Homo sapiens: one gene and its partners. The protein of the gene in region 3 purifies or fractionates together with the protein of the main gene of each other region. This does not show direct contact. Each region holds a gene or a part of one and is shown on either strand. Other genes may lie near its edges. The genes, in order: PICALM, GAK, HIP1R and PPM1B.

The links.
Region 1: the proteins of HIP1R (region 3) and PICALM fractionate together in Homo sapiens (co-fractionation; 3 studies listed by BioGRID and IntAct, with this or other methods). This does not show direct contact.
Region 2: the proteins of HIP1R (region 3) and GAK purify together in Homo sapiens (affinity purification with mass spectrometry; 3 studies listed by BioGRID and IntAct, with this or other methods). This does not show direct contact.
Region 4: the proteins of HIP1R (region 3) and PPM1B purify together in Homo sapiens (affinity purification with mass spectrometry; 2 studies listed by BioGRID and IntAct, with this or other methods). This does not show direct contact.

The regions. Positions count from the first base shown.
Region 1 is NC_000011.10:86,066,081-86,073,244, forward strand, and holds the start of PICALM (phosphatidylinositol-binding clathrin assembly protein), read right to left. Parts: upstream 3,005-7,164; 5' UTR 2,701-3,004; coding exon 2,571-2,700; intron 1-2,570. UniProt on the Homo sapiens protein: Cytoplasmic adapter protein that plays a critical role in clathrin-mediated endocytosis which is important in processes such as internalization of cell receptors, synaptic transmission or removal of apoptotic cells.
Region 2 is NC_000004.12:848,765-852,338, forward strand, and holds the end of GAK (cyclin-G-associated kinase), read right to left. Parts: intron 3,211-3,574; coding exon 2,986-3,210; coding exon of another isoform or gene 2,783-2,985; exon of another isoform or gene 2,545-2,782; intron 2,321-2,544; coding exon 2,172-2,320; intron 1,305-2,171; coding exon 1,128-1,304; intron 1,011-1,127; coding exon 909-1,010; 3' UTR 513-908; downstream 1-512. UniProt on the Homo sapiens protein: Associates with cyclin G and CDK5. Seems to act as an auxilin homolog that is involved in the uncoating of clathrin-coated vesicles by Hsc70 in non-neuronal cells. Expression oscillates slightly during the cell cycle, peaking at G1.
Region 3 is NC_000012.12:122,852,452-122,859,485, reverse strand, and holds part of HIP1R (huntingtin-interacting protein 1-related protein), read right to left. Parts: intron 5,444-7,034; coding exon 5,303-5,443; intron 4,582-5,302; coding exon 4,524-4,581; intron 4,434-4,523; coding exon 4,358-4,433; intron 4,222-4,357; coding exon 4,081-4,221; intron 3,936-4,080; coding exon 3,874-3,935; intron 3,656-3,873; coding exon 3,583-3,655; intron 3,507-3,582; coding exon 3,323-3,506; intron 3,231-3,322; coding exon 3,142-3,230; intron 3,055-3,141; coding exon 2,938-3,054; intron 2,862-2,937; coding exon 2,760-2,861; intron 2,466-2,759; coding exon 2,271-2,465; coding exon of another isoform or gene 2,238-2,270; exon of another isoform or gene 1,469-2,237; intron 1,385-1,468; coding exon 1,237-1,384; intron 1,138-1,236; coding exon 1,051-1,137; intron 649-1,050; coding exon 541-648; intron 426-540; coding exon 289-425; intron 61-288; coding exon 1-60. UniProt on the Homo sapiens protein: Component of clathrin-coated pits and vesicles, that may link the endocytic machinery to the actin cytoskeleton. Binds 3-phosphoinositides (via ENTH domain).
Region 4 is NC_000002.12:44,213,859-44,220,892, forward strand, and holds part of PPM1B (protein phosphatase 1B), read left to right. Parts: intron 1-4,108; coding exon 4,109-4,220; intron 4,221-4,621; coding exon 4,622-4,679; intron 4,680-7,034.

The DNA of each region.
Region 1 (7,164 bases), on a different chromosome or scaffold from region 3:
AAAAAATTACTTGAAATGACAGGTTTCTGTATTAAAGCCTAAAGTTCATGATGTCAACACCATGAACTGTCCGTAGAAGACTTTTTAATTTTCTCAAAGCATGTTAGTGTGTGCAAGGAAGGTATTTGTTTAGTAAACCACTCACTGGTCAGACTTTACCTAAGATAAAGGTATTTTATTAGTGAGAACTGATTACAGGACATTTTAATCAACAATGTAGGGAAAATAGTATCCCTGTATTTTAAAACCTCATTGAAAAGAAACAGAAGCACATTAACGACACATATATTTTTAAATCAAATACTACCAGGTATATTCAAGTTCCAAAAACGTGGGAGCTTGTAAACACAGAAGTGGTAGAGAAAAAGAACGACAAATGCAAGATTATCCTCCAAACCTAATCCCAGTTACCATCTATCTGCAGTAGTGGCTATAACAAGAGAAATAGCTAATAACATTTATGAAACAACATGCAAATAGCACTCTTCTAACCCTACCTATTTTCTCCTCTTTTTGACAATGCTTTAAAAGAACCACTGCTACATTTGAAATAAGACACAAACCTTTACAAAAAAAACTTTTAAAAGCCTTATCGATTCTTATTTTGAATGAGGAAAGAGGAAAATAGTTCACACAGTCACAACTAGTTTCTTCATACTCCCATACAAAAAAAAAAAACAAAAAAAAACCAAAAGCAACTAACAAAAGAATTAACACAGTGTCAGGACAAACTGTAAGATTTGGTAGGGCAAACCAAGTAGTATTTGAAGAGCCGTAAATAGCAGAAACGTCTACTACACGTATCAGATAATCAAAAAATCACATATGGCTTTACGATGCATTTTAAAAAGTTTTCTGTTCATAAGAGTGTCACCATTTAAACATATTCTCCATTCTCTAAGACAAGCAAGGACTGAGAGTTTAAAAGCAGCCTGCATGCATATCTGAAAGAATCAAGCACTAATGCTTTTTTATTTAAAACTTTTTTCCACAGTGGAGGAACAATCACAAAGAATAATAGGCTTCTGTGTAGCAAAAACTTGTTCTAACAGCATTCATGAGCACAGTAACTTGGAAGAATCTACATTTCGTACATTTTTTTTAAAGTGCAAACTTTACGGCCAAAGTCCAAATGAGAAATCAAAACAGGCTTCCAGACAGTGAATTATCTTTCAGGGCATGCTCACTCTTGCTTCAAACAGTAAAACAAAGTAACTTTCATGTATGATGAAAGTCAGTCAGACTAATGTGTCCAGTCATTTAAAAAGGGAACTTACTTATCGTGACTATTGCCCTATTTTTCCCTGAAAAGTTTCAGGTCTAAGCTCCATTGGCTTGAGTGATCCAATGAGCTTTGTACCCTGGGGTAAAAGAGCGCAAAGAAAAAGGAGGGTATTACAGGTGACTTCCAGGTTAGAAAAAAGTTACGAGGAGTTAGCTCTACTAATTGTATCTACGTTAGCGAATGGACGAATACTATGTCGTGTAAGAGAAGCTAAAGCTAGTTCCTCAAAAGGTAACTGGCATAATTAAAACATCCAAACTCAAGCATCATCAAACATCATTTTGCCAATTTTTTTAAGGGATGTATGTTATTTGTAAGTAAATTTATTAATCCATTTGGAATTCCAACAGTCTACGCTTAACACTCAAGCTTCTGAATTCAAGCCGCCAGAATTAACAGTTCCAGGAACTGATAAGAGTATCAGCAAAATGCCTTTTTCCATATCCCCATGTGAAAAGCTGGGGGGCAGAGCTGACAGTCACAAACTCACCCCAGTCAAAAGTATGGACAACACAACGATTAAATTCCACCAGAGGCAAATAAAAATCCCAACTTTCCAGAAAGCTTTCCCTACACCAAATTGAATCCTTTTACTTTCACTCCCACAAAGAAGGTAATCTGAAATAAAAGTCGGGTAACTGGGTATGGTATTTAAAATGAGTCGAAGAAACTACACTGAAGCTACTATAGAGGCGATGAAAAGGTAACCCAAAAGCAGGAGGGAAGGTGGAACAGAAAGCCAGGAAGGGATGGGCGAAGCAGCTAGTGGAGCAAAGGAAGTGGGGGATCCCTTCCAGGGAGGCAGCCCGGAGGGATAACAAGGATCTGGATGCAAGGAACCAGGCGTTTACTGAAACCCGAAGGAGGCTGATGAAGAAACAATGGGGCTTGGAGACGCTCAGACGAGGGCGACGAGGCGGCACCGGACGGGTGGGAAGGAAGAGCAGAAGGCTGCAGTGGAGACGGGTAGGGGGTGAGAAGCCAGGTGGGGAAGCAAGTTGGTTGGGTATGATGGGGTGTGGTAGCGCACCGGGCAGGGAGACGAGGGTCCCCTAGGAATAGGGAGGGGAGTGGCTTGTCAGATTTTGAGACGGGGAGCGGAGGCCGTGAAGGCAGGTGTGATGGAAGCAAAAGAACACAGCTCAACGGGCACAGGACCGGCCGTGCCAGAGAAGACGCAGGGAGGGAAGAGGCAGTAGAAGGGTGAAAGACAAGAGAGAGAGAGAAGGACGCGCGCGGGTCGCGCGGGCGCCGGGGAGCGGGGGCCGCGGTCGGCTTCACTCACAGTCCAGGTGCTTTTTCTTGGGCCCCATGATCTCGTGGGTCGTGGCCTTGCATACTGTCTTGGATACGGCAGAGCCGGTGACACTGTGCTGGGCGGCAGTGATTCGGTCCGTCAGGCTCTGGCCGGACATCTCTGCAGCTCCTCCACCACCCCACCCGCTCAGCAGCCGGCGGGGACTGGGACCCCCAAGAGCCGGAGGGTCCCCACCCCCCACCGCACCCCCTACCCCCACCGGCTCCTTCCCCGCCTGCCGGCCTGGGGCGCGGTTCGGGGCCGCGCGCTGCCACCAGTCCAGAGAGAACCGGCTCGTGTCACCCGCGGAGTCGGACAAGATGTCGGGCACTCCCTTGCCCCCGCCTCAGTTCAGCCCACCCCTTCCCGGGTCAGCTGGAGCCGGGCAGGGTAAGAGGAACAGGCAGCTGCAGGAAAATGGCGGCGCCAGGCTCCTCCTCGGAGCTTTCCGGGCTGCCCCGGGTCACGTGACTCGGACACCGCCCCTCCTCCCTTCTCCCGCCCCTTTCCCCTTCCCTTTCCTCTTCGACGCCCGCCCTCCCTCGCTCAGCGAGGGAAGAGCTGGGCGGCGCCCGCGCGTTACGTGATGGAACTCGCCAGGCGGGCGCAACAGGAGGCCCGCCCGAGGGGAGTGCACAGCCGGCGCATCACGTGACTCTCCCTGCCAACAGGTCGCCTGAGGCTCGGCCCGCGGGGTCACAGACGCCGGGCGGGGCGGGGCGGGAGAGGAATGGCGAGGGCGGTGTGCTGGCGGGGGTGGGGCGGGGCGGCAGGCTTCTCCCCTTATCCCCCCACCTCAAGTGTGTCCTCGTGTCTGTGGTTGAAACCAACAGCTTGACAAAGGAGGTGCAGCTGCCTTCACAGCTTCCCCTGAAGTGGGGGGTATTAGGCCTCTGGCTCCCCGAGCTTTCCCAGCAGAGTCAAGAATGTATTTCAAGACGCCTCCCAAAGCCGCCCTCCTGGCTTAAAGGAGAAGGTTCCAAACGGCCTATTTTCTGAACCTTCCAGCAGGCCTCTCTCTACCATGGAACTATTGAAGCTCTCCTTATTTACTTACCCCAGAAAGGTTTTTTCCCCCCTTTCCTTGAGAGGCTTGGAAATGTCACCTGGTTTTGTTTATCTCTACTCCGAAAACCCGACACGTTGCTGCCATTCTAAATTTAGATACTAGCTGGCCGGTATTCATTCTCTAGGGTGTGGAATAGGACAGGAAACACATAGCTTCACTGGAATTTGAAAAGGGAAGTAGTAGGATGATGTCAACAGCGATTAGCTTGACCCTACATGGCTGACTGCTGTGGTGATTAAAGGTCCAGACCATAGAAGGAAGTGAGAGGGGCGGTAAATGGAGAAGTCCCATTCAAACAGTCCAGACATCACTGCCTGCCATCTCCCCTGGTTTAGTCTTTCTTACCTTTGGCCTCTTTTCTCTTATTGGGTGAGCCAGATTTCCATGGAAAGACGTTGACACTGCCCTGTGGACATTTTAAAAGAAGTATTACATCCTGAAATACTATTCAATGAGACCCAGACCATACATTAACAAAGCCTTTTATATGTTATTAGAGCCTCTACATTCAACCCAGGGTTAGGGATAAGTTGAAAAATATGTGAGTGCTAAGTTACCATGATAGTCACATGTAATCTTGCTAGTTTCAAATGAAATGCTAACATTCTCAGAAAGTCTGTGTACACCATCTGCCAGCCAAATCCAAAATACTGTGCTTCAATCTGGTGACTCTCAAAGGATGCAAAGCTGATAGATATTTAACATTTTATGTATCATATCAGGAATTTTGTGGTCTCCCATTTTCCCCACGCCCCCTCACCCCTCTTTTTTCCCCACTATGGCTGGTGAAATTCTGCAGCAACATGCTCTTGCCAAGAACACACAAGTTTTTAATCCCAGCAGGCTTCATCTTTGTCAAGCCAGCCTCCAATTTCACAAAACTATAATGAATTCCTTCAGTGTACTGCAATCCATCTGTGGTTTGGTGCCCAGTTTGCTGCCCCACGTCCACTGGGCAGTGGAATTACCAAATTCTCAAGACATGTTATCAGCCATCATTGCTACTGGTCTATGGGTTCCACTGTATAAGTTACTGATTGGCCTGAGCCTCTGCATTGGTAAACCCCAATCTGAGGTCAACACTAACATGGTCTAGCTATCAACAGCTGAATATTTTATCCTTAGGGAAAATGCCAGTCATTCCTAAGTACATAACAGGAAAGTATTACACTATTACTTTTACCAAAGAGGTTCTTTCAGACCACTTTTGTGACAATAATTGTTGACATGTTTACCCTATTAACAAACAAGCTGCTGTTAGAAATATTTTATTTTTTTCCAAGTATACATAGTAGAATTTCTAACTATGTAAATAATCAGTAATCATTGAAGAGGTTTATGTGTGGTTGTGAACTGAAATATATGGAGAAATTTAAAAGAAGATGGGGAATTGTTCTAAGGGTAGACATTACTGACCTATGTTGTCTTATATGCTTAAGTTTTCTGTGTCAGTTTCCTTGGTCTATTCAGGAAATATCTCTACCTGAAGTTCCACAGATGCCAACTCACCATGGCCAATACTGAACTTCTCTTGCCCTTGCCCAGCATCCTACATCTTTAATCCATACTGTTCCCTATATCCGTTAATGGCCTCACCACATGTCCAGAAGCTCCGCTCAGAAAGCTGTGATTCTGAGTTCTCCTTCTGTCTTATTTCCCTCATCAAGCCTAATCTACTTTTATCTCTCAAACACATCCCATCTCTAACCCCACTTCTGTTGCCTTAGTTCCAGCCTTTATGATCTCTGTTATACTAGACTGTTTTAGTAACTTCTTAGCTGATTCTCTGTCTTTTATACCCTGACTCTCCAATTCAGATCCTTCTGAAACCAAAATGTGATTGTCTTTTCTTTGCATTAAAATCTTCCAGTAACTCCCCCATCGCTACCCTAAAGGATGAAATTAAGAACTCTCAACCTGGCATACATGGTTCTTCATGATCTGGCCTCATTTTAGAAGTTTCTAAGTATGTAAATAATCAGTGACCATTGTAGAGGTTTATGTGTAATTGTGAAATGAAATACATGGACCAATTTAGAAGAAGATGGGGAATTAGAACTAAGAATAGGCATTACTGACCTACTTTATCTTATATACTTAAGTTTTCTCTGTGTCAGTTTCTTCAGTCTATTTAAGAAATATCTTACCTGAAGTTCCACATGTGCCAACTCACATGGCCACCTAAACCTGTTGAGCCTTGTCTCTTCCCATTCCTCTAAATTCCCCTACCTACCTACTACTTGTTGAGCCTCATCTCTTCTGATTCCTTTAAATGCACTCCAGACAGTATCACACTACTTGACATACTTGGATGTCATGCTGTTTCACATACCAATAAGCAGTTACTGATTTCCTTTTGTTACTCATATATCCTTCTGTTCTCTAATTATTATTGTGATTGACTAATTGCACTAACATGGGGGTGCAGAGATACATCCATGCTAGTATTATGGTTGATGCAAGGTAGATACACAGTAGATGGTGATTGAACGAATGAATGAGAACGCTTTGAAATCACGCATTCGGACACACCATCACTCCAAACCTCTCATTTGATAAAATCTGCCCACTTTTTCACACATTTAGCATGTCTACTGGGCATGGAGGCATAAGCCTATAGTCATAGCTACTTGGGAGGCTGAAGCAGGAGGATCCCTTGAGCCCAGGAGTTTAAGCCTGCAGTGAATTATGATCCTACCACCGCATTCCAGCCTGGATGACAGAGCAAGACACTGTTTCTAAAAATAAATAAAGCATGTCCATCCCATAATTATCTGGTTGGAGCATCATCCTTATTCAGTACCTTGTTAATTAATTTACTCTTTCAAAAAATATGTGTTGAACTGTGTGTCAGGCATAAAGGTTCTAAGTGCCAAACACTATTTACAGTGAACCCATCAGTCCTTTGGGAACTAGTTAGTTCTCAACTTGAAGGCCTCTTTGCTTTGATTGTAAAGGAGCAGACCAAAAACAGAAGGAAAAAACTTGAATAACACATTTCCTAGGTATTTCCTAGGCTCTTCCAACTAAAAGGTATGTTGTAGAGAGGCAGGGAGTGTTCGGAGAAGGAGCAGGTTTTTTTTATTGCCTCCTATGTGCTAAAAACACTACATTTTAAAAATGTAATGCTCATAACAATAATTTCAAAAAGTATCATGTCCAAGTATCGTGCCCATCCAATACAAGAAAACAGACAAGTCTTGGAAATTTTTTTTTTTTTTTTTTTGAGGCAGTCTTGCTCTCTTGCCCAGGCTAAAGTGCAGTGGCATGATCTCGGCTCACTGCAAGCTCCACCTCCTGGGTTCACGCCATTCTCCTGCCTCAGCCTCCTGAGTAGCTGGGACTACAGGCGCCTGCCACCACGCCTGGCTAATTTTTTGTACTTTTAGTAGAGACGGGGTTTCACTGTGTTAGCCAGGATGGTCTCGATCTCCTGTCCTTGTGATGCGCCCACCTCAGCCTCCCAAAGTGCTGGGATTACAGGCGTGAGCCATCGTGCCCGGCCAAGTCTTA
Region 2 (3,574 bases), on a different chromosome or scaffold from region 3:
AGCAAACGTGCAGTCATTATTCTCTGAAAACAGGAAGAGCCTGGCGGTGAGTTCAGGGCTATGATTCAGGGCCTCCTCGAGTCTGCTGTGGGGTGGGGGCTCACCATGGTCACCTTCTCCTTCCAGGGGCCCCTGGTCCTCCACCAGCCCGACAGCCCGGAGGCCACCTTGGCCCTGCGGGGATGGCACAGGGGCAGTGTGGAGCCCACCCTTGCTCCTAGGTCCAGGGCCCAGGGGCAGGGGCCAAGTGGAGAGGAGAGAGGAGTCCCGGGGCCGAGGGGAGGAAGGGGGTCTGGGGACTGCAGGGGCCCCCGCCCTTGGCCTTGCCCTGGCTGGGCTCTATGGCCCCCTGAAGAGCTGCCCAGAGCCGCTGCAGCCCCGGGACCCGCTTCTCCTCTCCACTCGGCCCCTGCAACAATCCAACCACGGCAAGGTTGCTGAGGAAGCACAGCCTTGTGCCCCAGCTGGTGAACGGCACCTGGGCGAGTGGATCCACACTGGAGACACAGCAGTCATCGGAAAATAGTTTAATTCTGTACAGACAACCACGGGACTGATTACAAAGTGCGGTGCAAACACCAGGGCCCATGAGCGCCAGCAGCGTGGCCCACCACGTGCCGGGGCTCCAGAGGCCACGCCCGAAACACCAAATAAATCACAGACGTGACAATTGCGGGAGGAGCATGAATCAGCTGTTCCTTCGGGAGGAGAAAAAGGAAACAACAATCAGAGGCTTTGGAATGCTTTCTCTTCATGTGCCTGGAACGCTGGGCGGGCGGTGACCCGGGGCTCGGAGCCCCACCCTGGCCACACCTGCTGTCGCCCACGGGGTCCTCACGGTGGGGACCCAGGTCCCACGACGGCTCCCAACCTGTGGAGCTGTGTGCGCAGCCACCACCACTGCGGCCTCAGAAGAGGGGCCGGGAGCCCTGGTTCTCAAACTCCGACCAGGCGTCATTCAGCTCCATGAAGATCATCTTGGCGTGCTGCTCGTACGGCTGCCCCGCAGCCTATGGGTGACAGGCGGTGTAAGCGCCTCTTATAAGCATGCGGGGGCGGGCGGGGCAGGACCCCCCCCCCGCCCCGCCCCTGAAGGCCTCAAGCGGCCGCCTGGCAGCTCTGCTCACCTTGTCGGGGTGCACAGCCAGCACCGCGCGGCGATAGTGCTTCTTCACTTGCTCCGGAGCCACCAGGTCGGCCATGCCCACGGGCGTCCAGCGGCTCTCCCCGTCCCACAGCACTGTGTGCAGCGTGGACAGCAGGGCCCGGATGTTCCGCTCCTTGCCCTCAATCCAGTCCAGGAGCTGCGGGAGACACGGAGCTTGCCGAGCCCTGGGCACCTGCCTGCCCTCCTCCTCTGCACCGCGGAAACTGAGGCACGACGCTGAGGAAGTGCCTGGTCACGTGGGGTGGGCTCAGCCCGGCTCACAGACACTGTCCCACTGCACGCCCTGCCCTCAACTATATAGAGCCCACTCCGGACGACACAGGGCCAGGTGGTCTTCATGTTTCAGGGCCTGGGGCCAGAGGGACCCTCGTCTCAGCCAGATGTTCACCGAGGACACAAACCCTGGTTCTGGTGGTGCAACCCCTTGGCCCATCCCAGGCCCCAGACTCCGAGGGAGAAGGGGATGGTCCCTGGTGCCTGTGAAAGGACCCCAAGGTCACAGGCGCATGTGGCCTGCAGAGCTGGGCATCGGCCAAGCCACAGAGCAGGGCGTGTCTCAGGGCCGGCACAGTGACAGCCTGACCGCTGCATCCTCACCCCCCAGTGAGCGTCCTGGGTTGGGAGGCTCAGTACCCAGAGCAGCCCCCAAGAGACGCCTGCCCTCAACAGTCTCTGCAAACACCCCGGGGCACTCACTCCTGTAACGCCCGCCCACCCCACCCCCACCAGCGCTGAGCCATCTGGGCACGTGGGGAGCAGCACAGCCTGGGGCCTGACTCTGCCCTGCCCCCCTGGCCTCAGGCCACCCTGTCCTTGAGGGCTGCCAGGCCCATCGGCAGTGACAGGTCCCTGTCTGGAGACGCCGGCTCCATGTGGTACAGCAGATGCTCCAGGGGTGAAAGGTTGCTGTCTGGAGACGCCGGCTCCATAAGGCACAGCAGATGCTCCAGGGGCCATGGGTTGAGGCCTCTGGGCTCCCAGGAAGAGCTGCCCACCCACCCACCTTCAGCTTGAGTGGGTCCGTGTCTTTAGCCAGGTCCTGCTTCCTCATCTCTGCAATGGTCTTTGGCCCTTTCTTGTCAGACCTGGAGGAGAAGCCTTGATTGGACAACAGATCTTCAAAGTCGTTCTCAGAGACTTTTGGCTTTTGAGCTAGAAAAGAACAGAAACTTTTTTTTGTTTGAGACAGGGTCTCCACTCTGTCACCCAGGCCAGAGTGCAATGGCGTGATCTCAGCTCTCTGCAGCCTTTGCCTCCCGGCCTCAAGCGATCCTCTTGCCTCAGCCTCCCAAGTAGCTGGGACCACAGGCATGCGCCACCATGCCTGGCTAATTTTTACATTTTTTGTAGAGAGGAGGTATCACTGTTGCCCAAGCTGGTCTTGAACTCCTGGGCTCCAGCGATCTGTCCGCCTCAGCCTCCCAAAGTGCTGGGATTATAGGCGTGAGCCACAAAGCCCAGTTAAGAACAGAAACTTTCTGCAGAGACACACAGGCCCAATTCCACCTGCTGCCCCCGGGAACAGGGCTACCATCCTGATGCCTCCAGAGTAAAGAAGAGGGAAGACAAGACAGGGTTGCAAAGGCCATTTGTTAAAAACAGGTCAAGAAGGTGTCACTGGAACAAGAGGGACCCAGAGGCCTGACCCAGAGAGAGACCAGTGAACACACATCGGAAACCGCGTCGTTCTCTGAGTGGCTTGGCCGTGCCTGTCCCAGGACTGGGCTCTGAGATGAAGAAAACAACATAGGTTCTACCTTTAGCCAATTCAGGGAGGTCTCTGCAAACTCCACAGCAACAGAGAGTGGGGGACTCACCAAAGCTGGGTGCGCGGACCCCCCGCTCCTCCCGCGCCCCGATCACACTGAAGTTCGAGGCATAGTTAGGCCTTGGCTGTGTGCAGGCTTTGGGGGGCGGCTTGGCCTGAGGGGGCCATGAGGCGCCCTGGGCTGGCGGCCGACTTGTCTGCCAGGAGCTGCTGCCTTTGGGCGTGGTGGCCGTTTTGGGAATGAAGCCCCCAGGAGGGAATCCAGCTGGTGAGCCTGTGGAGATGGAGATCGGAAACTCGGCATCTGGTTGTCCATGAGGGGCAACTACTGTTTCTATAACGCAGAGCACCACGTATATTGGAAAACATGCGCTTGCAAAATAGAACACCGATCACTCGAGGCCGTCCAGAGGTGCCGGCTCCACCCACACGTGTGAAGGTCTCCAGGGGCTGGAGCACAGGCCAGGTGCTGGGGCGACGGGAACACTCTGGATGGAGGGCAGACACCAGGACAGGGCAGCTGTGGAGGCAGCACCCCACCCCCAGGAGCCAAGGCAGACCCAGGGCTTGTCCACGGGGGTTGGGGCAGTGTCCCCACGTCACCCCCAGGAGCCAAGGCAGACCCGGGGCTTGTCCAC
Region 3 (7,034 bases):
CTTGTCGACCACGGCCCCCAGCTCCTCCTGCCGCACATCTAGGCTCTTGGGTTTCAGTTCCTGGTGAGGATGGGAGTCAGACAGGGGTAGCCTCCGTCCCCCCCCGTCCCACGGGCAGCCTGGGAAAGAGGTTGGGGACCACAGGGATCGAGGAGGGTGCATGGTCCCCACCCTGTGTCCTGAGGCTGCAGGCTCCACGCACAAACACCTGTTCAGCCAACCCAGAGGTGGGTGCAGAGGTCAGAGGCAGGCCCAAGCCTCCCAAACCCACACTCAGCTGTGCCTCACCTGGCCCAGCTGAAGGATGCCCTGCAGGGGTGTCCGCACCAGGCTGGCCTGCATGTGCCGCAGAGCCTGCTGGTCCTGCAGCTGCCCCATGAGCTCCAGAGCCCGGGCCCCGCACTCCCTGCAGGTGTCTATGAGGCCTGGGGTGAGAAAGGACCGTGAGTGGAGCCCCCCCCACCGACAGGCTCCATAAGGACCCCCAGGGGAGACAAGCCAGTGAGGTGGACAGAACCTGCCATCCCAGGACCCACTTACGGTCGGCAGGGTCGGTGGGAGCCAGGTGCGAGGTGGCACCGCCATTGATGATGGTATCCGCAGCCAGGTGGGAGAAGCGGGTCAGAGCTGCCACCAGGGCGGAGGCGTCTGTGCGGGTGGGTGGGGCCAAGGTTGGGGGAGGATGACACTGAGACACTAGCACTGGGACCACCGTCGGTGGCCAGCTATCCCAGGAGGAGGAGGAAGAGGAAAGGAGGGCTCGGCAAGACAACGTCCAGGAGGCAGTGGGAACCACACCACAGTGTGTGTGGCCCCGGGCCCTTCAGTGCTCTGCCACCTGCAGACATATGGTGGCCCAGGCCCCAGAGGCAAAAGCCTATTTGTCCACAGGGCAGGGGTGGGTTCCTGGGAAGGAGCAGGCAGGGGGCATCTGCTTGGCTTCCCAGAGAGGTCCCTGCTGTCTGTAAACCTCCCAAAAGGCAAGAGGTGGCCATGGGCGCTGGAACTGGGACACAGCCCCCGCCTCCGCCCTGCCCTGGCTACACTCACCTGCCAAGGAGGTCAGGTACTGGGCGTGGCCCTCCTCCAGGGTGCTCACGGCATCCAAGGCCTCCTGGGCCCTGCTCACCAGGTAGTCTGCAAGCACGAGGAGAACTGAGGCCCCTGCCACCCGCTGCTCAGGGCTGGGGATGGGAAGGAGGCAGGGGAGCGGCTGAGTGTGGCCCCACTGTCTACCTGGGGAGCTGGTACAGCGCAGGTGCAGGGGGTCGTCCAGCTTGCTCACGGCATCCTGCAGGATGCCCGCGGCCTCGGCAGCAGCGCCCCGCAACACTGCGAACTGCTCGTCCAGCAGCCTCTGCCGCAGCCCCTGCTCCTGAGACTCCTGGCAATGGGGGTGAAGAGGACAGGTTAGAGATCCTCCCCAAGGCCAAGGATGTGCCCCAGCCCTGGAATGACCCATGGGCCACCAGTTGGAGCCCAGCTGAGACCCTCACTGGTCAGGGGGGTGGAGATTTCTAGAAAGAGGCTTCCCACACAGTGCACAGCTCAAGAATAAAAAGATAACCCAATTAAAACGTGAGCTCAAGGTCCTAAAAGACATTTCTCCAAAGATACACAAATGGCCAGGTAGCTCATGAAAAGATATGTAGCACCCTTTGCTATCAGGGAAACACAAATCAAGACCGTGAGAAACCACTCCACACCCACTAGGATGGCTAAAATAAAAAGAAGACAATAATAAGCATTGGCAAGGATGTGGAGAAACTGGAACATTCATGCGTTGCTGGTGGGAGTGTAAAATGGTGCAGCCACTTTGGAAAACAGTCTGGTAGTTTCTCAACAGGGTAACAGAGGTGAGACCCAGCAGTTCTACTGTGTTCCACACACATCAGCTATCTATCCAAGATAAGTGATGGCAGATGTTTACACAGAAACTTGTGCTCAAAGGCCCACAGCAGCACTATTTACAACAGCCAGAAAGTTGCAACAAACCCAATGTCCACCAAGTGATGAACAGATAAACACAATGTGGTCTGTCCACACGGCAGAGTACGACTCAGCCATAAAAGGAATGAGGTAATGACACAGGCTATGATGTGGTGACCCTTGACAACGTGATGCTGAGTGAAGAAGCCGGACACAAAAGGATGCATCGTGTATGATCCCCTTTACATGAAATCTCTAGAACAGGCAGATCACGGAGACAGATCGATGGTTGCCAGACGGCAGTGAACTCAGTGGTGCTGCTGCATCTGGGGAGGCCATACCCTCTCTGCCAGCCGGCCCTGCAACTCGCCCTGCTCCTGGGAGCTGCGCTGCTGCTCCCGGCTCAGCGCCGCCTCTGTCTCGCGCACCAGGCTCTGCGCCGCCAGCAGGTCTGCCTCCCGCTGCCGCACAGCTCCACTCAGAGCATCCTTCTCCGCACTCAGCGTGTCCAGCCGTGAGCTCAGCTCCGACTTGCTCTGTGGACAGACATGGACACCAGGCATGTGAACAGAGCTCCCAGGCCCCACCCACCCTGCCCCCACGCTTATAAACTGGGCCCTGGGGGTTAGTGATCACTTCCATTAGACTCAGGGCTCCCTGAGGACCAGCGGTAGGTCCTGTCTCCCATGTAGCCCCTGGGTCTGGGTCAGGGCTGCATCCCAGGATCACCGAGTGGCACCCAGGTGGGGCCTGTTCACGGGAAAGAGGACCTGACTTCCACCCAGGACTGGCCCCAGAACCCCACCTCCAGTCATCAAAGCCAGATGCACCTGCTCTGTGTGGCTCAGGGCCTCCTGCGCGCGGGCCAGCTCTCCGGCCTTGGCCTCCAGCTCCCTCTTGAGCTTCTCCAGCTGGTCGCTCTTCTCCTCTAGCTGGGACAGGACAGCGTGTCACTGGGGCAGTGGGCTGGGGATGCCGGGGCAGGGCCCTGTGCCACAAGGGACATACCTTCAACTCCGACTCCCGCTTCACCTGCTCCACCTGGAAGGCCAGCTGCTCCTTCACCCGCGCCACCTCCTCCTGGCTTTGCTGCGTCACCGTCAGCTGCTTGGCTGTGTCCGCGTTCTGCATGGGCAGGGGAAGGGCTCATGCTCTGCTGCCATCCCCGAGAGGCCCTGCCACCGGCTGGGATGGAGGATGGGCTGCACCTACCTTTCTGAGCAGCTCCGCGTGCACATGGACGAGCTCACTGTGCTTTTCCTTCAGCTTGTTGTAGCGCGCCTCCGTGGCACTGGCCTTCCCTGGGGGCGAGAGGAGGGGCAGTGATGCCCCGTGTGGGGTGGCAGGGGCTGGGGACACACCCTTGGACCCCTGTGGCCAAGGCCCCACGTACTCTCAGCCTCCTCACGCAGGCCCTGGCTCCGCTCGCCCTCCAGCTGGGCAGCCCTCAGCTGGGCCAGCTCGTGGCGGAGCTGCTCATTATCCACCAGGGCCTTCTGCTTCTGCTTCCGCTGCTCCTCCAGCTCACCCTCCAGTGCATTCACCTGGCTCTTCAGCTGCGCGATGTACCGCTGGGCCTGCGGGAGGAGGTGTGACGTGGGGCCCTGCCTGGGCCGTGAGGGGCCCTGGCCCCCACCCATCCCCACCCCGCACCTCCAGCTTGATCTTCTCCAGTTCAGAGCGGAGCATTTCCACCTCTCTCTTCAAGCTCTCAATCTGGAGGTCCCTGGGGACAGAGGTCCTGGGGTTCAAGTTAAGTCAACCAGAACAGTCAACAGACCCAGCACAGGAACCTGTCTCCTCCTCAGTGGCCACTCAGGATTTGGGCACCTCACGGGTTCATGTTCCCCACCTATGGCCTTTCCAGACAGAACTGTCCAGAGCACAGCTCAGCTGAGCCCGTTTCCAACCACCCCCAGCCCAGTCGGCTCCTCCAGCCCTCACCTGTCGTCCTTCACAGACCCATTGGGGGGTCCAAACGTCTGATCGAAGAGGTCAGCCACCACCTGCCACAGCAAAGCATGGTGACCCCACTCACCTGTGCCCTCCAGGCCGGGCAGTGGGCAAAGGGAGGGCTGGCCACCCGACACTCCCGTTGGCCTCATGCTGCAGCTGGAGGACTGGGGGACACGGGCTGGGCAGGGGGCTCACCACTGGCTCCCCCGCGGGGGGCCCTGTGCTGATCTCAATGAGATTCTCCGGCTCCTCATCTTCCGGGGCCTCCTCGGGGATCACCACCACCGGCTTGATGTGCTCAGCCAGGGCTGAGGCCCGCAGGAAGTTAGGGGGTCCCTGCAGGGGCGGCAGGTGGGACCTGCTCAGCTGTCCCCTAAGCAAGCCCTCCTTCCGCCATCTCCATAGCCTGTGTGGGGCCCAGCCAGGTGCCTGGGGTCCTCAAAGGGCCTCGGGGCCCTCTTGGGGGTGGTACCTCGGGCAGCCGGGGGATCTGGATGAGCCGCTTGAAGTACAGCATGTCGGAGGCTCTGCGGAAGAAGTTCCTGAGGCTGCAGAGATGGTGGGAAGTTCGGGTTCAGGAAGGGGCCACGGAGCCTCTCCCCCACCGGCCTCAATCCTGTCCCTGTCCCAGGCAGTACCTGTGAAACTGCTCGTGGAACCGGTCCCTGTGGCCTTGCAGGGTGTCCGCAGGGAGACCTGGAGGGTGGCACAAGTGTAACAGGACTTCTCTGCACACTGCTCAGGGGCTCACCTGCCCTGCCTTGTTCCTCCGTATGCTACAAACTCACAGATCAGAGATCACCTGAGACCGGGCCAGGCCCGCTCTCCCATCGGGATGGGGAGACCTGTGGGAGACGCTGTGGGAGGGCTCAGTTCAGACTGAGCTAGAGAAGGAAACAGCGAATGGAAAGGAAGGCGCTGCGGCCACATCTCACCTAACCCACACCTGGCTTCGGGAGGCACTAGCAAGCCGCTTTCACCAAACACGTTGGTCCCAGGCTGACACTAACACAGTGGTTCTCAAAGTGCGGTCGAGGGACGAGACCCTTTCAAGGGGTTGGTTAGATCAAAACTCTCCTAACACCCCAGACACCTTTTGCCTTTTTGCGCTTGCACCCCCAGGGTGCCTGGCGGGAGATTCCTGGGAGCAGCTGGGGCCTCCGTCTTGGCCGAGCCAGGCATTTAGTCGTAAAAATGAAAACCAAGCCACTCACTAAGTTTTTTGCTTGGTAAAGTAGTGGGTTTTTTTTTTTTTTTTTTCATAAAATATATGTTATTTCTATTAATGGGCAGTGGGTTTATTACTGCCATTTTTAAATGAATAAACCTCTAATTTTTCGATTTTCCTTTTTGACAGTGAATGTCTAAGCCATATAAACACAGCCTTCCGGGCCAGGGGTTGCCCTGGGCCACTCACAAGAGTGTAGCTTGAACAGGAGCTTGACCGTGTAGTGGTAGAGGTGGCTGCAGTCCTGGATGACCTGGATGAGGGGGGCCAGGCGGCACTGGCCTGAGGACATCTGGGATACGGCGATGGCCGTGTTGAGCTGTCGGAAAACTGTGCAAAAGGGGCAGGAGGAAGAACGTGAGCCCTTGGGAGCTGGGCAACCTGTCCAAGGTGGTCCAACTGTGAAGCAGGGCCCTAAGCCAGCTCCCACACACCAGTGTGCCCCCTGCCTCCAAGACGGGAGCCTCATGTGCTGGTGGCTGCCCCAGGTCAAGACCAGATGCTCCCATGAAGGAGGTCAACGGCAACAACAAGGTCAGGGCAAAGGAGCTCCCAGCCCAGCTCAGCAAGGGCTTCCAGAGACCTCCACCTGGGAGCCCAGGACGAGGTGCCCGACTGACAAGGGTGACGGATAGCTCCATGCCCACGGGCCTCAAACCCACGCTGAATGTTAGAGCAGGAAGGAGGCTCACGATGGAGCACCCCAAATGCCTAACTTTACAGATGTGGGAACAGGCAGGGCTTCTGCCAAGTAACACGGCACTAGGGTCACAGCTTGGCTCTGCACACCCCAAGTGACCCTGAAACCTCGCTTGCCCCCAGGGCCCATCTCCCCTGCCCCTGACACCCCCAGGGCCCGTCTCCCCTGCCCCTGACACCCCCAGGGCCCGTCTCCCCTGCCCCTGACACCCCCAGGGCCCGTCTCCCCTGCCCCTGACACCCCCAGGGCCCGTCTCCCCTGCCCCTGACACCCCCAGGGCCCGTCTCCCCTGCCCCTGACACCCCCAGGGCCCGTCTCCCCTGCCCCTGACACCCCCAGGGCCCGTCTCCCCTGCCCCTGACACCCCCAGGGCCCGTCTCCCCTGCCCCTGACACCCCCAGGGCCCGTCTCCCCTGCCCCTGACACCCCCAGGGCCCGTCTCCCCTGCCCCTGACAATCGGGCCTTGTATCAGAACTACCAAGTGGGAGGGACAAAGGACAAACATGAGGCTGCCTCCTCCTTGGCTGGCAGCTTCTCTGGGGCAGAGAGAATGACAAAGAGCAGGCAGCTGGCCAGCACGGGAGAGCGGCCAGACAGCCCCCGCTGCACAGACCTGTGCCCTGGCCCCTCAGGTCCTGCTCCTGCCTTGCCTGTGATGGGACCACTTGCAAATCTCTGCAGTGACAGGAGAGAGCCTGGGGGGGAGGGGCAAGAAGGAAGACACAAAGTGCCGCCCCTTGCCTTTTTAAAAAAGTAATCTCTAATTACATGTCATGCTAAGTATGTTTTCCTTGCAAAAAATTACAGCACACATAAAGTACTGCTTGGATCTTCAACACGTATGTCCATGCTGTTCGGCAATCTGCTTGATTTCACACAGTAGAATGTTTTCTAGATCTTCCCGGCCATCCCAGATTCGACACATCTCTCTTCCCACCACCCTCCGTTCTCTGCTCTGCACAGACAGCGAGACGCAGCCTCTGCTGAGGCATGTTTAGGACGTTTGTGTTTCTTTGCTGTTACAGGTCCTGAGGCAGGGAAGCCCCTGTACCTGTCACCTCTGCAGATCTGGGAATTTCTCCAGCAGATGCTGGTACACCCCATTTGTGCTTCATCAACACACCAGCGTCACCAGGTGGGAAGCGTGCCTGTGAGTGTTCTCCACTTCCCTCGTGGGGCCACTGCCTGCCCACACTGGCCTTCTCCCATGCCAGGGGTAA
Region 4 (7,034 bases), on a different chromosome or scaffold from region 3:
GTAGTATATTGGGGTTGCAGATTGCTGACTATAGTTTATCAGAAGGTGGGAGGAATTCTCTTAGTTTCCTTCTTCCTCATTCATAAAGAAACTGGGTAGTTTTTATTTTAGGAAGAGCTCTCTAGTTTGGTCAGCTGGCTGTTATGTGAACTTATCCAACTTGCTTAACCCCTCAAGGCACCAGTTTCTTTATTGGAAACTAAAGATAAAAACACCAACCATAGAGTTTTTTGTTTTTTGAGACAGAGTCTCGCACTGTCACCCAGGCTGGAATGCAGTGGCGCGATCTCGGCTCACTGCAAGCTTAGCTGCCCGGGTTCACACCATTCTTCTGCCTCAGCCTCCGAAGTAGCTGGGACTACAGATGCCCGCCACCATGCCTGGCTAATTTTTTGTATTTTTAGTAGAGATGGGGTTTCACTGTATTAGCTCAATCTCGTGACCTCGTGATCTGCCCGCCTCGGCCTCCCAAAGTGCTGGGATTACAGGCGTGAGCCACTGCGCCCGACCCCATAGAGTTTTTTTTTTTCTTAAATAAATTGTTACAAAAAAAGCTTATTGATGACACTTGTTAAAGATGGTAAGGCAGATATTTTTTCGGGGGTGGGGGGGGCATGGCAGTAGATATAGGGACCACTATGATAGAATCTTGCAGTGGCAGAAAGAAATTAAACTCAACTTGGGGTCCCATAAAGATAAGTGGAATTTATAACTAAGGAGCTGAGTGCTTGAAGGGAGTGTCAGTGGATGGAAAATTATTACTAAGAGGAAGCATCAACATAAGGGGTTTCTGGCTAAACTGACTTGATAGCATGGCAGGCCAGGCTAAAATATCCAGAGTGGTCCTATATCAAGTGTGTGGGGGTTTTCAGTAAACTGACTGAGCAGGATTCTCATTCAGCCTGGTTTCTACAAGGACAGAGAGGGAGCCTAAAGTTCTCCTAGTCAGAAAGAACTCAAGAGTCTTGCTGAAGGTTTGGTCCAAGCAAAGAGTTTTTGTCAAAATAAATGAGAATTATGTTTGTTAAGCACCTATTATGGTGCCTAGCACGTAAGTCCTCAGCAAACTGTAACTTTATATGAACTCTTAACTTCTGTAATAGCCACATTTTAATTTCTTAAAGGTGTGGTCAATTCAGTTTAACATGAGTTAATAATTTAATATTAATTTTCTTCTGCATAGTTAGTAACTTTCTAAAGTATATATTATATAGGAGAGATAACAAATATGTAATATGATCTCTAGGGCCTGTAGCAAATAGTTATTATTAATCAGGAGACAAAATTGTTAGCTAGGCAGCCACTACAAATCAATTTAAGTTGGTACTTAAAATGTAACTTCACAGTAGCTTACACCTATAATTCTTGGGATGCCGAGGCAGAAGGATTGCTTGAGACTAGGAGTTCAAGACCAGCCTCGGCATCATAGAGCTACAAAAAAGTTTTAAAGATTAGCTGAGCATGGTGGTGCACACCTGTAGTTCCAGCTACTTGAAGACTGAAGCAGGAGGATCACTTGAGTCCAGGAGTTTGGTGTTACAGTGAGCTATGATGGCACCACTGCACTCCAGCCTGGGCCACAGAGTAAGAACATGTCTTTAAGAAAAAAAAAAAAGTAACTTTTTATTTGTAAAGCAGTGTTCTTCAGGAGCATTATGTTTCTTCTGGGGTTTTAAATCATGTAATATGACATTAAATTTTGTGGTAAATACATTCTGGTGTACTTGGTAAATCTGTGTGTATGCTTTTAATGATGACTGGTCAGGTGGGAAAGGAATAATATTAAAATAAACAGGGAATAGTAGTTCACCTGAATTGATGAATTATATATTTAATGATTGCTTTCTACATACAGGTTTACTCAGTGTTTATTGAACATGTGTCACTGAGGATATAGCAGAAAAAGAAATCTCATAGAATTTGTATTCTAGTAAAAACCTATTTTTTTTTAATAGAGAAATAAAATAGAGTAAGTAGAGAGCAACAAGGAATATTGGTTAGAAATGTCTCTGTGAGGAAGGATGTTTGAGCAGCCGTGCTTGGAGAGAGAATATCTGAGGGAAGAACATTCCAGGCAATGACAACAGCAAAGACTAGGAGGGAATGTTCTTAGTGAGTGCAGCTGGGTTAGAATAAGCCAGTAGAAAACTAGAGGAAAATTAAGAGGTTTGTAGGAGGCATATCATGTGAGGACTTTGGACTTTGACTTGTGGGAATTCATTGGAAGATTTTGAGTACAAGAGTGATTTGTTCTTTTTTCCAAAGGATCTCTCTTAGTTGCTGTATGGAGAAGAGATTGTATAAAAGGGACAAGAGAAGCCAAAATACCGATTAGAAATTATGCATTAATGCATGGTAGTGGTAAATTGGACTAGAGTAGAGGGGTGTAAAAATGTCTGGTGACATTTTTGGTGTCATAGCTGAGGGGGTGCCACTGGCATCTAGTGAATGGAGGCCAGGGATGCTGCTTAATATTCCACAGCACACAGGACAGCCCCCACAACAAAAAAATTGTCTGGTGTAAAATGTCGGTGTTGTTGATGTTGAGAAGCCTTATACTATAAGACACAGATTTAAGGTAGAAAACTTACAGTCCTGCTTTCATGAAGCTTGCAGTCTATGACCCAATAAACATCGTGTATGTGGGAGTATATAGCATTATGGTATACAGTACATGTCATGCATATGGGAGTGTATTGCAGTGTACCTACTCAGACTTAGGTCAGAGAAGGATTTGAGAATGTGACATATAAAATTGAAACCTCAAGGATGAAAATAGGCATTCATAGCTGGGCGTGGTGGCTCAGGCCTCTAATCCCAGCATTTTGAGAGGCTGAGGTGGGTGGATCACGAGGTCAGGAATTCAAGACCAGCCTGGCCAACATGGTGAAACCCCATCTCTACTAAAATACAAAAATTAGCTGGGTGTGGTGGCACATGCCTGTAATCCCAGCTACTTGGGAGGCTGAGGCAGGAGAATCGCTTGAACCAGGGAGTCAGAGGTTGCAGTGAGCTGAGATAGTGCCACTGCACTCCAGTGTCTCAAAAAAAAAAAAAGGGACATTCACCATACAGAGGGGTTGGATTAGAGTGAAAAGTGTTCCCAAACCAACGAAAAGAGTATGTGAAGATCTAGAAGTAGAAGTCTTTGAATGGATCCTTTGGAGATGAGGGAGGCGGGCAGAGTTGAAAGAGTAGTGGAAGTCAACGTAAGGGTCTTGTGAGGCATGGTAAACAGTTGTTTTGAAAGTAAGGCCTGGGCTGGGTGTGGTGGCTCATGCCTGTAATCCCAGCACTTTGGGAGGCCGAGGTGGGTGGATCACCTGAGGTTGGGAGTTTGAGATCAGCCTGACCAACATGGAGAAACCCCATCTCTACTAAAAATACAAAATTAGCCAGGCATGGTAGCACATGCCTGTAATCCCAGCTACTCGGGAGGCTGAGGCAGGAGAATTGCTTGAACCCAGGAGGCAGAGGTTGCAGTGAGCCAAGATCACGCCATTGCACTCCAGCCTGGGCAACAAGAGTGAAACTCCGTCTCAAAAAAAAAAAAAAAGCTGTAGAATGTAACTATTTCAGGTAAGTATCAACTTGTAAAAATGATTTTTAATTTCTCCCCTTTTTCTTATAATTCTTATCTAGCTAAACTTTTATTATCCTTTAGTAATGGCATTCATAACTTTTATATTGTTTTTACTTAATATTAGATCAGAAGTATTTTTCCATATAGCTGTTACTGTATTCATCAAGACACCTATTTCGTAATTTTTAGTGATTATAAACCATTTCACTCAATGGCTACACCAAAGTTTTTAACTGTCCTCTTGTTGGTGAACATTTAGTTTGTTCCAGTTTTTGCTTTTTATGAATAATGCTGGAATGAACATACATATGCAAATAACTGTTTTTTCTTTTTTCCCCCTGCATAGCAATGTTTCAGTCAATAAGTAGCTTTTTGTATTACTTCTTAAAAATTTTTTGTGTGTTGATGGTAATTTTTTTTAATATATTTTAAAATAGGTACTACCAAATAGTATCTCTTGTTTCACTTCTTGGTGAGTACTGGCTTATCACATTAATTTAGGAACTTTTTTTAAAAAACCTACAGAGATTATGGAGAAGTCTGGCGAGGAAGGAATGCCTGATCTTGCCCATGTCATGCGCATCTTGTCTGCAGAAAATATCCCAAATTTGCCTCCTGGGGGAGGTCTTGCTGGCAAGTAAGTAGAACAAAAAGCTAATTTTGAGTTCGTTCATAATTAGTAATTAAATAATTTGGGGTAAAAAAACTTAAATCAGAAGTACATCAATTATCTAGAGGTGAAATGGGTTAGTGTTTCTTATACTAGAGAAGAACTCTTAAAACTTCAACCAAAAACGATTTTTTAAAAGGAATTATCTATCATACTCTTTGAGTATGAAGGTCCTTCTTTCCTTGCTAAGGAGTACAAATGGATTGTGCAAAATCAGATTCTGAGAGTAAAGTGTAGAAGGTATGTTCTTGACAAGTATAGAGTGTACCAGTTACTTTTTTAGTGTGGTCAGGATGAAATATTGAGATATTCACAAGCTTAAAATTCTGTGTAATTTAATAAAACTAAAGCATGTTTTTTTTTTTTAGGCGTAATGTTATTGAAGCTGTTTATAGTAGACTGAATCCACATAGAGAAAGTGATGGGGTAAGTTTTATTTTATTTCATAAGCATTTGAAGTAATTTCACAATATAAATACTAAATATGAATACATTCACATTAACGAAGTCTATAATAAATTATAGTCTGTAGTAAATTACTACTGCTTTTCATTTTAAAGTGTCAGTTAAAGTTTAAGAAAATGTATTGAAATGAAGGTAGAGATAAAATTTTGTTTTGTAGATAGTTTTGTTGTCACTTTCTGGGCATCAAATGACCTTTTTTGTTTGGGCTGTCTTTATTTCTTCTCTATATGTCTGCTTTTCCTTCTTCTCCTTTAAACCTTAATTTTGAGGCAAGAATGCTCTTTTAAATATCTCAATTTCTCCTCCAGCAGGCTGCTGCCATCACCAGAAGTTAGTGATAGTGAGTGAGTTGTTATTTTAATAACTAGACCTTTCAGTACCCCTGTATGCCCACTTGGAATACCCGAGGATAGTTTTTTTCTAATATTATTGTTGTATTATGGGTACATGAGTGTTGAGCTGAGATAACCATTTCTGTTGTACCTTGCTGTACTTCATCAGAGCAAGACTCTATGCCCTTACCTTTTATTTTGCTTTTCTTCGAAATGTCAGTGAGCTGCCAGCTGCCCCTCTATATTGTTTTGTTTTGTTTTAGTACTATTACCAGGAGACAGAAGTGTCCTTTTTTTTTTTTTAAATCCAAGTTAGTTCAAATAAGTATTTTTCTCTTGGGTTTTCAAGTTTTTATGTCTAAAAATAAATTATTTAATTTTTAATATATATGCTTCAAAGCTTTAAGGGAACCAAACAGAAATGAAACTGATTGGGAGGAAGAGTCCACCTCCAGTCTCCAGCTCCTCTTGGCAGATTGAGAGAGAGAGTATCCATTGGCTAGAAATCATATGTCATCTCAATTGCATTATTTGCTAGGATTCATTGTTGCACAGCAATATAATATGATTTCTTTTCCTTAACAGTAAAAGTTATCCTGGCAAAAAGGAAAATTTAATAATTAATATAATTTTAGTGAGTCATATAAAAGTGATGCTATATATTGCTAATTATAATTTATATCTTGGTCTAGAGCAGTGATTCTGAGTCTTTTTTTGTGGCAGGTTCCTCAGAGTATTAAGAATTGTACCCAAGGCCGGGCACGGTGGCTCATGCCTGTAATCCCAGCAGTTTGGGAGGCCGAGGCGGGCGGATCACCTGAGGTTGGGAGTTCGAGACCAGCCTGACCAACATGGAGAAACCCCGTCTCTACTAAACATACGATATTAACTGGGCATGGTGGCGCATGTCTGTAATCCCAGCTACTCGGGAGGCTGAGGCAGGAGAATCGCTTGAACCCGGGAGGCGGAGGTTGTGGTGAGCCGAGATCATGCCATTGCACTCCACCCTGGGCAACAAGAGCGAAACTCCGTCTCAAAAAAAAAAAAAAATTGACCCAAAGCTGAGAAAATTAATTTAAAAATCCAAATATTTTATGTGATCCATCAGAGAACCCTCAAAGAAATGAGTATAGGATGTTGACATATGACTAAAAGGATGGTGGTAATTTGGAAGGTTGAGAGAAGAGAATCTTAACTCTTCAGCTAGATTATAGATTCTTCAGGGCATCCACTACCTTGATTAGAGGAAATAAGCCCTCAGAAGACAGTTATTGATTCATTATTAGCCATAGAAGTACTCCCATTTCCTCAGGTGTTTCAAAGTGTCAACCCTCATGTGTAATCTTTAAAAATACATATATATATATATATATACCTTGCTGGATTTTGGGGTCCTTCATAGTCTATTTTTACTCCAAACAAGGTTTTCTGTTTAACATATACCAAGGATAACTTTTAAATTTTTTAAAAAGAAAAAATGATTACACATAGTAGCTACATAAACAGGGAATAAATAGGCAACGGAACTATGAAACTGGGGGGAAATGCTCAATATATAAACCTTACCTTAAATAGATTATTATTTGGCTATAGAAATGGGATATATGTACTTAATTACCTTTATACATAAATGTTCTATCAACATCAGCAGATCAAACACTGACAGTGTGTTGTATAGTGGATTCACAGAGGGAGAAGACTAGAAAACGTAAGACGTGACCCCACCTGTGTGTCTAGTGCAGCTTACACTGTAGTTATAAACACACCTTAAATGATCAAAATATTTCGTATAGCTTGGTAACAAATAAATGACAAAATCCAGAATGTGACCATTGCCATGTGACTTGGACAGTGATTGCTGTAAAAGTTCAGCTGCTTAAGCAGGGGGAAAGTCAGCTTCTTAGAGAAAAGATAGTATTTGAAGAATGATTTGAATGGTAGAAATGACATGAGGATGATGACCTTTCAAGTGGACTAGAGAGGC